Homo sapiens: one gene and its partners. The protein of the gene in region 1 purifies or fractionates together with the protein of each later gene. This does not show direct contact. Each region holds a gene or a part of one and is shown in the gene's direction. Other genes may lie near its edges.

Evidence for each region.
Region 2: the proteins of ZNF485 (region 1) and MRPS9 purify together in Homo sapiens (affinity purification with mass spectrometry; one large-scale study listed by BioGRID and IntAct). This does not show direct contact.
Region 3: the proteins of ZNF485 (region 1) and ARID1B purify together in Homo sapiens (affinity purification with mass spectrometry; one large-scale study listed by BioGRID and IntAct). This does not show direct contact.

Annotation. Positions count from the first base shown.
Region 1 is NC_000010.11:43,605,050-43,609,278, forward strand, and holds the start of ZNF485 (zinc finger protein 485), read left to right. Parts: upstream 1-1,388; 5' UTR 1,389-1,497; exon of another isoform or gene 1,498-1,514; intron 1,515-1,947; 5' UTR 1,948-2,001; coding exon 2,002-2,025; intron 2,026-3,564; coding exon 3,565-3,691; intron 3,692-4,184; exon of another isoform or gene 4,185-4,205; coding exon 4,206-4,229. UniProt on the Homo sapiens protein: May be involved in transcriptional regulation.
Region 2 is NC_000002.12:105,051,440-105,055,089, forward strand, and holds part of MRPS9 (small ribosomal subunit protein uS9m), read left to right. Parts: intron 1-3,650.
Region 3 is NC_000006.12:157,207,378-157,211,429, forward strand, and holds the end of ARID1B (AT-rich interactive domain-containing protein 1B), read left to right. Parts: coding exon 1-514; 3' UTR 515-3,402; downstream 3,403-4,052. UniProt on the Homo sapiens protein: Involved in transcriptional activation and repression of select genes by chromatin remodeling (alteration of DNA-nucleosome topology).

The DNA of each region.
Region 1 (4,229 bases):
GGTTGGCACTTTACTCATCACCTGAACTTTGACATCCCTACTGTTGATTATCTCCACAATGCCCACCATATCATCGAATACCAGACCAAGTTTCTTACAATTATCTACTGTAATGGAGTTAATTTTGCCCTTGATTTGCAACATCGTGTTGACACACTTGTATATGTAAGCCGCCTGTTTCAGCTCTGTGTCATCAATCACCAGATTGGAAACATTTTCCTGATTTTCCACTCTCCACTTCTTGCCCTCCAGTTCAAGTACAGCTGGCTCCTTCTTTGTGGCTGGTTTGGGGTTTAGGTGCAGAGAATGGCTTGGGGCCACTGCGTACTGGACCACTCTGAGCCTTCAGGGTAGGGTTCTTGTGAGTCTTCATGTCATCAGATACACGTTTCAGGGCATGTGTGATGCTCTCCCCCTGATTAATCTGCGCAAACAGTGCTGAGAGGGAAGCGGACTCATCTGAGCCTGAACTGACAGAGACTAGTGGAGGAGGGGGGCCTGGTGGTGGGGGAGGAGTAGCTGATCCAGCAGAGGGTCCAGATGGCAGTCCACTCAGTTCTTTTGTCACAGGCCCCGTTTTGCTCCAGGCAGTCCGGTGGTATGGAACTCCTTAATGTAAGCCTGCAGCTCTGTGCATATACTTAAATAAGCTTTGACTCAGTCTACATGCTTCTTATCCACATCTTTGTACTCTTTAAGGACTCAGTTTGTATAAAACACAGCAGCATGATTCATTTCTTTCACATAAGGGCCAGGATTGGGAGCCATAGCCACCCAGCCTAGGGCCTGGATACTTTCACTGACAGCTGACAGCTGATTAAACAACTTGCTGCCTCGGTTCTTCTCCCAAAAGGTTATCACTTCTTTGATCTGCTCTGAGATAGGTGCCAACAGATCGGAAAGCTTATTACCTGCCGGCTATTGACACTGAGAAGCTGTAACCAAGAGAGCTCACTCCAACTTCAAAACTGTGTGTACCATCTCCACATCTTTCTGCACGTCTTCCCCAATCTCTTTACTGATCTTCAAGTACTCTGCCACAGGGCAGGCAAGCAGCGAGTCAAATGCCTGCGCATATGGAGCTGCTCCTGCTTTTGAAGGACTATCTCCATATCCACGGTGCATGTCAGAGGTATGGGATACTGCCTCCAGGCGGCCCACTGCCCTGTCCAATTTTTTACCAGATTTTGCATGTCAGTCATAATGTATCACCTCCCGACTGCGATCAGCCGCTCTCCACTTCCCGCACCTTCACTTTTCAAAGATTCCCAGGTGATGCCAACCTGCTCTGCGGATGGAGCCCCTAAGACCCCAAGCGGCCCAGACTACGTTTCCCAGAGGCCTCCGCGGCCTCAGCCACTTCCGCTTCCGGTCCAGCCTGTCTCCGCGTGGTGCGAGCGCTGCACCAGCCCCTGGCTGGTGGTTACTGTCCGAACGGCGTGGTGTGGTCGCTGACTCTCTGGGCGTGCAGCTCCGCAGCCCTGCCGGCTCGGTTCGGTTCGTGAGCGGCCGGGGTCAGGCTGGGTCCCTGAAGCCTCGAGCCCCTGGCGGGTGCTCCCCGCCTTTCCCAGGGGCGGGTCGAGGGGCGAGCCGGGGTGGGAGGGGAAGGCGGCGGTGGGCAGTGCCCACCCGCAGTGGCTGCGCCGTGTGGAGCGACCGCTCGAGGCTGGTGCATCACAGAGCGCTCCAGCCTTGCGCCCCGGCCGACAGATTGGGCCACTGACAAGGCCGTCCCCCGGTGCTGCCAAAAGTGTTTGGCGTGGAGCTGGCTGCAGTCCAGGCCGGATCCCAGCAGCCGTTCCCTTTCCTTTCTTCCCGAGCGTACCCACCTGGACCTGTCTGCCCACCTGTGGAGGGAACGGGCGGGCGGGGACCTGGTCTAGAGGGCAGATTCTAGCTAGGCTAGGGCACGGAGGGACTTCCTCAATTTCCTCTCTTCTTTCCCAGATTGACTTACGCAGGATTCTCAGCCCTTGCCTGGGAGAACAGTTCAGGAGACAGATGGCCCCAAGAGCCCAGATCCAGGCAAGTTTGATTTTTCCATTTCTTGAGAAACCACGTGTTTCAGCGAGGTGGGGTTTATGCCTCTTGCCCGGACAATGCCCTGCCCTGTGTGTGGACAAAGCTACCCGAACCAATCCTGGATGGGTCCCGCGATTTCCGTCCTGTCTACCCATTACGTAGTCATTCACCAAGTAGATTATTGCTACCCATGTTTTCTAGAGTGCTAGAAACAGAAAAGTGCTTTGCAAACTGGCAGACGATGAAAAAAATACACGTTAGCATGTAAAGACGTAGGCCATAAAGACATAGGGTGATAGCAGTGCTCTCTTGACCTTTAGTGTGTGGTAGGGTGGGAGGGGTGGAGTAGTGGGCGCCTTAGTTCTTCCTGAAGAATAAATGAGATTTGCATAATTGCAGAGGATACTAGGGGAAAGCGCTGCCTGAATGAAGTCATTATGGCGGGACCATGAACAAACTGGTCTGAGAAAGTTGGAAACATTCATGGTCTAGAATCCCAGACTGGAGTTTGCTTTTATCCTGGAGAAAACTAGGTTTTGAAGGATTTTGAGAAGCTGATTAAATAATTGGTATTTTGAAAGGAAGTGATAAACATTTGAGTGTCTATTATACAAATAAAATTAAAAAAATTAAAGATCACCTACATTTCTACTGCTCTAAGTCAAGTAATTTCATTTGAAACACACTTTTCATTTTTTTAAGGCTTACTCATTTTTTCTTTTAGTATTTCATAGCCATTCCAATTTGTTCTAGTTTCATTACCACTTTTTGTGGCTTCCTTTTATACTGTGCCTTCAACCAGCCCTGGGACCTTGAGCAAGTTCTTCCAACTCTCTGAACCTTTGTGTCTTTAGCTACGAAATAGATTTTACTTTATATAGTTACGGCAGAAATTTAGAGAGATGATATGTATCTCAGGGTTTAGCACCGTGGCTGGTACATAGTAAGTTGTTACTCTTATGAAAAGCAATTTTTTTTTCTTTTTTAAAAATATTCTGCCCCAGAGTCAGATCATACTCCCTGTAAATTCTCGGATAAAGCTAATCACTTTCCATGTCTTTTCAAAGTTTCTATTCATTTGTTGATTGAATAAAGCTTGAACACTTCTGTGTCAGGCAGTGTTTTTGACTGGGAGGCAGCAGTGACCCACACTGTCCCCCTGGAGCTCACATTAGAGAGGATGCTGACAGTCAGTGCAAACCTCTCCTGCCAGGTGGTGAGAAATCCTGTGAAGAAAAGTGAAATGGGTTTCGAGACTGAGTGGCAGAGGATGGGGTGGAGAAATAGAAGACCTTTTTGATGAGGTGACATGAAGGGTGGAGTGAGCAGAGGCTAGGCCTGGAGGAGGGAGCAGGACAGGCATGCAGGAAGAACCTGCTCAAGGGAGGAGTCGCACATCCCCTGAGCCCTCAGCTTTTACTTGTTGGTTTCCATGAGCACTGTTGGAACTGTCAGAAGCTGGCTTTGACCACCTTGCTTCCTTCTCTTGGGATGCCTCCCTCAGGGGTTCCCGGATGAGCAGAATTGGGTTTGGTTTTGCAGGGACCGCTGACATTTGGGGATGTGGCTGTGGCCTTTACCCGGATTGAGTGGAGACACCTGGATGCTGCTCAGCGGGCCCTGTACAGGGATGTGATGCTGGAGAACTATGGGAATCTGGTGTCTGTGGGTGAGGATGGCTTTCTCCTTGACTCAGGATTGGTCTGCTGGGCAACTTTGTGTTTTCACAGGGTGAATGGTTTGGGGTATTGAAAAAATCTTAAATGATGTGCTTTTTGTTTTGTTTTTCTTAAGTATGGGCTTAGAGGCTGGAGTTTATGCCCCTTACACCCCTCAAGAAAGGTCAGAGCCATACAGAGTTAAGATGGGTAGCTTTGTGGTGCCAACTAGCCCAGTTCTGGAATGTTTCTGTGTCATGATTCATCTGCCTCCCAAAATAGGAGTTTCTCGTCCTCCAGGAGGACCTGGTTTTCTAGTTGACTTTGCCCCCTCCCTTTGCTTTACTTCATGAGTTGGACATCCTGGGTGCCACCCTCTAGGCCTCTCTGACCTGTCCATGCTCATTGCAGATGCTCAAGTTGACACTGAGGTCTGGAGTGACTGCTTGTGCTTGTAACCGCCATCACATTCCTTTTCATTCATTTTTTTTTTCTTCCTCTAAGATCCTTTTTCTTTATGAACAGGGCTTCTCTCTTCCAAACCAAAAC
Region 2 (3,650 bases), on another chromosome or scaffold:
CTTTATAGTAAGTTTTGAAATTGGGAAGTGTAAGTAGTCTTCTTTCCTTCTTGCTTTTAAAGACTATTTTGGTTGTTCTTTGCTCCTCGAATTTTCATATGAAATTTTAGGATCAGCTTGTCAGTTCCTGCAAGGAGCCACCTAAGATTTTGATAGGGATTGTGCTGAATCTCTAGATAGATTTTGAGAGTATTCCCATCTTAATGTTAGTTAAGTCTTCTGATCTCTGAACATGGGGTGTCCCTCTATAGATACAGATCCTTTTTAATTTCTCTCAGTGATGTTTTGTAGTTTTCAGAGTCTAAATTTGGCACTTTTTTGTTAAATTTATTTCTAAGTATTAATGTCTTAACTTCTATTGTAAATAGAATTGTTTTATTTTATAATATTTTTGGGTTTCTTATTGCAAGTGAATACAGTTGATTTTTGTATATTTTTGATTTTGAATCTACATCCTTGCTGAACTTACTAATTCTCATAGTTCTTAGTGGATTCCTTGGGATTTTCTAAATACAGGATATAGCAAGATAGCCCATATATAGAAGGGTATAGCAGGATATCCCATATATTTACGAATCCCAAAGAATCCACTAAAAACTACAAGAATTAGTAGGATATTTCACCTGAAAATGGAAATAGTTTTACTTCATTTTTCCTATTTGGATACCTCTATTTCTTTTTCTTACCTAATTGCCTTGGCTAGAATGTCTAACAATGTTGAGTAGAAATGGCAAGAGTGGATGTCCCAATTTTGTTCCTGATCTTGGGGGAAAGCATTCAGTCATTCACCATTAAATATGATGTTAGCTGTGCGTTTTTCATGGGTGCTCTATCAGATTCAGTAAGTTTTTTTCCATACCTAGTTTGTTGAACTTTTTTGTTGTTGTGGTTAGTGTTTTTGTCACGAAATGGTATTGGATATTGTCAGATGCTTTTCCATTTTGATGATGATTTGGTTTTTGTCTTTTGTTCTGTTGGTATGCTGTATCACACAAATTGATTTTTGTATGTTAAACCAACCTTGTGTTCATGAAATAAATCCCACTTCTTTGGTGTGTATACTCTTTTTTTATATGTTTCTGGATTTGGTTTGCTAGCATTTTCTTGAGGATTTTTATGTCTAATTGATATTGGTCTGTAGTTTTCTTACAATGTTTGTCTGGTTTTGATATTGGTAATACTGGCCTCATCGAATGAGTTAGGAAGTGTTCTCTCCTCTTCTGTTTTTGGAAGAGTTTGTCAAGAATTTGTATTAATTCCTCTTTAAGAATTTGGTTGAATTCACCAGTGAAGCCATCTGGGCCTGGGCTTTTCTTTGTGAGTTGTTGTTGTTGGGTTTTTTTAAATGCTTACTTTTTAAAATGGTCCTACCTCCTTGTGGTCTGTGTGTCCCAGAGTAACTGTTCTTAGCAGGAGGATTTCATTACCCAATTGAGTTTACTACTAAGATGTTTTTGAGCAACTCTTAACTACCTTTTTGGTTTGTCTGTTTGTTTGACTGATAAAGACAAGGTCTTGCTATTTTGTTGGCAGGCTGGTCTGGAACTCTTGGCATCAGGCCATCCTCTGACCTTGGCCTCCCAAAGTGCTGGGAGATTAAAGGCATGAGCCACCACGCCCAGCCCCACTTCACTACCTTTTTGGATGTACATGGGGCATATGTAGCTTATTGAAAAAAGCAGAATCATTCAACAATTTTGTAATTTTATCTGAAGGTATAAGTATTTTCACAGTGTAAGTATTAAACATGAATTTTGTTGTTTGGAGTAGTTTGTTCATTGCTTGGATGTTTACCCAGAATATTAGTTTGGGATGTTAATATTATTTTCATGAGGACTTAATTTATATAGAGTAGCTATGGTCTATAATTTAATTCAATTACATAGTTAAAAGTCTAGGCTCACTATAATTTTCACATAGACAAATTAGGCACCGTTGTATTCAGATTAAGCTATTAGTTATTTTATATATTTTAGAAACTAGTTTTTTCATACTAGTTATCCAATTACTAAAATAATGATCGTGAAGACCATTTATGAATTGCATTTGAGCAAAACATTTAAGATTTAAAACAACCCTTTCATATATTAAAATATCTTTTAAAGTATTTACAACAGATACAAACTGGTGATTCCATCTAGAATACGTTTTTAATAGTTAGAGAAATCTAAAAGGATCCTGTAGCTTAGTGAATACATTCACATTCAATCAGGTAGAAACCAATTTTAAACAATGTATTTAGTTCTGGTTCTCAAAATATAGAATTATTTTCCAGAGAAGAGATACTTAACATCACTATGTAAAGATAAGTGGTGGCAGCTATTCTGTACTTTTAAAACTCTGTGTGTGTATATATGGTAAAAGCAACTTGATGTCATCTTGTGTGATTGTGTTAACAGAATATTATAAAAATCTACCTTTAGATTTAGCCAATTAAGTAATCAAATCATGAATTAATAGGAAAAACATCCAATTGCTTCTTTAAAATATATAGACTCTTCTAAAATGAGGTTGAATTTATTGTGTGGAATATAAATGCAGAACATACAGAAAGCTTTATTAGATTGATTTTTTTCTGTCTTTTTATTAAAAATTCATTGTAGTTGAAATGATCTTGTAGAAAAATACAGGACCTGGGATTTAGAGATTCCTTGTGATGTCACTAACTAGTGTCGTTGAGCAAGTCAGGGCTCTCTGTCACTTGATTTTCTTATCTCTAAAATAATAATACCGACTTGTCTACCTCAGAATATATCTAAAAGGCATGAGATTAATGCAGTGTGTTATTATTCCTGTTACTATTAACAGTAATAAATACCATCTGCCATAACTGGAATCATTCTCCAGTTCTCTGCTTTGTCACACAAGTCTTCCATGCCACCTGAGAATGAGTGCTGGGGAGAATCATCTGAAACACTGTTGGGTACATTGATTTATCACTGATTGACTATACGGGAGGTTGCTTTTGTCTCCTGTAGGTTGATATTGTCTCACCTAGCTTGGTATCTAAAAAGCCCATATGGAAGTGAGTGTTAACCGTTTTCCTTGACACCAGTGACATAATTCTGCTGTGCTAGACTTTGCTGCAAGTGATTGATCGGCTTCGCTGACTCTTGTGGCATTTTATTAAATATAGCGGACCCCTTTTGGTATCGCATTTTATTAAATATAGCGGGCCCCTTTTGGTATCGCATTTTATTAAATATAGCGGGCCCCTTTTGGTATCGCATTTTATTAAATATAGCGGGCCCCTTTTGGTATCGCATTTTATTAAATATAGCGGGCCCCTTTTGGTATCGCATTTTATTAAATATAGCGGGCCCCTTTTGGTATCGCATTTTATTAAATATAGCGGGCCCCTTTTGGTATCGCATTTTATTAAATATAGCGGGCCCCTTTTGGTATCGCATTTTATTAAATATAGCGGGCCCCTTTTGGTATCGCATTTTATTAAATATAGCGGGCCCCTTTTGGTATCGCATTTTATTAAATATAGCGGGCCCCTTTTGGTATCGCATTTTATTAAATATAGCGGGCCCCTTTTGGTATCGCATTTTATTAAATATAGCGGGCCCCTTTTGGTATCGCATTTTATTAAATATAGCGGGCCCCTTTTGGTATCGCATTTTATTAAATATAGCGGGCCCCTT
Region 3 (4,052 bases), on another chromosome or scaffold:
GAGACTTGTGCTGGAGACCCTCTGTAAACTCAGTATCCAGGACAATAATGTGGACCTGATCTTGGCCACTCCTCCATTTAGTCGTCAGGAGAAATTCTATGCTACATTAGTTAGGTACGTTGGGGATCGCAAAAACCCAGTCTGTCGAGAAATGTCCATGGCGCTTTTATCGAACCTTGCCCAAGGGGACGCACTAGCAGCAAGGGCCATAGCTGTGCAGAAAGGAAGCATTGGAAACTTGATAAGCTTCCTAGAGGATGGGGTCACGATGGCCCAGTACCAGCAGAGCCAGCACAACCTCATGCACATGCAGCCCCCGCCCCTGGAACCACCTAGCGTAGACATGATGTGCAGGGCGGCCAAGGCTTTGCTAGCCATGGCCAGAGTGGACGAAAACCGCTCGGAATTCCTTTTGCACGAGGGCCGGTTGCTGGATATCTCGATATCAGCTGTCCTGAACTCTCTGGTTGCATCTGTCATCTGTGATGTACTGTTTCAGATTGGGCAGTTATGACATAAGTGAGAAGGCAAGCATGTGTGAGTGAAGATTAGAGGGTCACATATAACTGGCTGTTTTCTGTTCTTGTTTATCCAGCGTAGGAAGAAGGAAAAGAAAATCTTTGCTCCTCTGCCCCATTCACTATTTACCAATTGGGAATTAAAGAAATAATTAATTTGAACAGTTATGAAATTAATATTTGCTGTCTGTGTGTATAAGTACATCCTTTGGGGTTTTTTTTTTCTCTTTTTTTTAACCAAAGTTGCTGTCTAGTGCATTCAAAGGTCACTTTTTGTTCTTCACAGATCTTTTTAATGTTCTTTCCCATGTTGTATTGCATTTTTGGGGGAAGCAAATTGACTTTAAAGAAAAAAGTTGTGGCAAAAGATGCTAAGATGCGAAAATTTCACCACACTGAGTCAAAAAGGTGAAAAATTATCCATTTCCTATGCGTTTTACTCCTCAGAGAATGAAAAAAACTGCATCCCATCACCCAAAGTTCTGTGCAATAGAAATTTCTACAGATACAGGTATAGGGGCTCAAGGAGGTATGTCGGTCAGTAGTCAAAACTATGAAATGATACTGGTTTCTCCACAGGAATATGGTTCCATTAGGCTGGGAGCAAAAACAATGTTTTTTAAGATTGAGAATACATACCTGACAACGATCCGGAAACTGCTCCTCACCACTCCCGTCATGCCTGCTGTCGGCGTTTGACCTTCCACGTGACAGTTCTTCACAATTCCTTTCATCATTTTTTAAATATTTTTTTTACTGCCTATGGGCTGTGATGTATATAGAAGTTGTACATTAAACATACCCTCATTTTTTTCTTTTCTTTTTTTTTTTTTTTTTTAGTACAAAGTTTTAGTTTCTTTTTCATGATGTGGTAACTACGAAGTGATGGTAGATTTAAATAATTTTTTATTTTTATTTTATATATTTTTTCATTAGGGCCATATCTCCAAAAAAAGAAAGAAAAAATACAAAAAACAAAAACAAAAAAAAAAGAGGGTAATGTACAAGTTTCTGTATGTATAAAGTCATGCTCGATTTCAGGAGAGCAGCTGATCACAATTTGCTTCATGAATCAAGGTGTGGAAATGGTTATATATGGATTGATTTAGAAAATGGTTACCAGTACAGTCAAAAAAGAGAAAATGAAAAAAATACAACTAAAAGGAAGAAACACAACTTCAAAGATTTTTCAGTGATGAGAATCCACATTTGTATTTCAAGATAATGTAGTTTAAAAAAAAAAAAAAGAAAAAAACTTGATGTAAATTCCTCCTTTTCCTCTGGCTTAATGAATATCATTTATTCAGTATAAAATCTTTATATGTTCCACATGTTAAGAATAAATGTACATTAAATCTTGTTAAGCACTGTGATGGGTGTTCTTGAATACTGTTCTAGTTTCCTTAAAGTGGTTTCCTAGTAATCAAGTTATTTACAAGAAATAGGGGAATGCAGCAGTGTATTCACATTATAAAACCCTACATTTGGAAGAGACCTTTAGGGGTTACCTACTTTAGAGTGGGGAGCAACAGTTTGATTTTCTCAAATTACTTAGCTAATTAGTCTTTCTTTGAAGCAATTAACTCTAACGACATTGAGGTATGATCATTTTCAGTATTTATGGGAGGTGGCTGCTGACCCACTTGAGGTGAGATCTCAGAAGCTTAACTGGCCTGAAAATGTAACATTCTGCCTTTTACTAACTCCATCTTAGTTTAATCAAAGTTCAATCTATTCCTTGTTTCTTCTGTGTGCCTCAGAGTTATTTTGCATTTAGTTTACTCCACCGTGTATAATATTTATACTGTGCAATGTTAAAAAAGAATCTGTTATATTGTATGTGGTGTACATAGTGCAAAGTGATGATTTCTATTTCAGGGCATATTATGGTTCTCATATTCCTTCCTACCTGGTGCACAGTAGCTTTTTAATACTAGTCACTTCTAATTTAAACTTTCTCTTCCTGGGTCATTGACTGTTACTGTGTAATAATCGATTTCTTTGAAACTGCTGCATAATTATGCTGTTAGTGGACCTCTACCTCTTCTCTTCCCTCTCCCAATCACAGTATACTCAGAATCCCCAGCCCCTCGCATACATTGTGTCGGTTCACATTACTCACAGTAATATATGGAAGAGTTAGACAAGAACATGCAGTTACAGTCATTGTGAGACGTGACTCTCCAGTGTCACGAGGAAAAAAATCATCTTTTCTGCAAACAGTCTCTCATCTGTCAACTCCCACATTACTGAGTCAAACAGTCTTCTTACATAACAATGCAACCAAATATATGTTGAATTAAAGACCCATTTATAATTCTGCTTTAAATACATCTGCTTGCTAAGAACAGATTTCAGTGCTCCAAGCTTCAAATATGGAGATTTGTAAGAGGGAATTCAATATTATTCTAATTTCTCTCTTACAGAGTACAAATAAAAGGTGTATACAAACTCCGAACATATCCAGTATTCCAATTCCTTTGTCAATCAGAAGAGTAAAATAATTAACAAAAGACTGTTGTTATGGTTTGCATTGTAACCGATACGCAGAGTCTGACCGTTGGGCAACAAGTTTTTCTATCCTGATGCGCAACACAGTCTCTAGAGACTAATCCAGGAAGACTTTAGCCTCCTTTCCATATTCTCACCCCCGAATCAAGATTTACAGAAGCCCACGAAGAATTTACAGCCTGCTTGAGATCATCTTGCCTATAAACTGAGTTATTGCTTTGTCCTAAAAATTAGTCGGTTTTTTTTTTTCTATGAGGCTTTTCAGAAATTTACAGGATGCCCAGACTTTACATGTGTACCAAAAAAAAAAAAAAGATAAAAAATAAAGGTGCAAAGAAAGTTTAGTATTTTGGAATGGTGCTATAAAGTTGAATCTGTTGGTATTTGAGTGGATTTTTTTAATGTCACATAAGAGATACTGGGCGGCGTCTGCTCAGCAATAGCTATTCACAGTGTTTTGTTCGAGGAAGAGAATGATATAGAAGCATGTTTTACTGATGAAGGTGGCCTGTTCAAAGACTAGTTAAGCTGTTTTTTCAGAGTTATAATGAAGAATGATTTTTTTAAGGGCATATGGGCAGTCTCATACAATGTAAGCTATTAACTACCTCCTTTATGAAAAGAAGCCAGCCTTTGCCCTGAAGTCCATCCATTTAAAACTGTTGGAAATCTTTCATTTCCTATCAAACCACATGTACCTGTTCCCATGTCTGTTCACCTTTGAGGAAGCAAAGAAAGTATTATAAATGAGCCACAAATGGACAGTGCAAACAGTCCCTGTTCTTCTTGCTGAGTGTTGGTTCACTTCTTTATTTCGAGGGCCGTGGCCCAGCTGCCTGAAGTCCTGCTCAGCACCAGCCTAGAAGAACTTGGAAGTAAACTTCATGGTCAGGCAAGATTGTTAAAAACTCTGATGAATACACTTGGTAGCAGCATTTAATCTGCGAACAGGCAACATTACTCATGAATTTAACAGAGATGTGTTGAGCACATGCTATGTGCCTGGCTCTGTTCTAGGCTCTG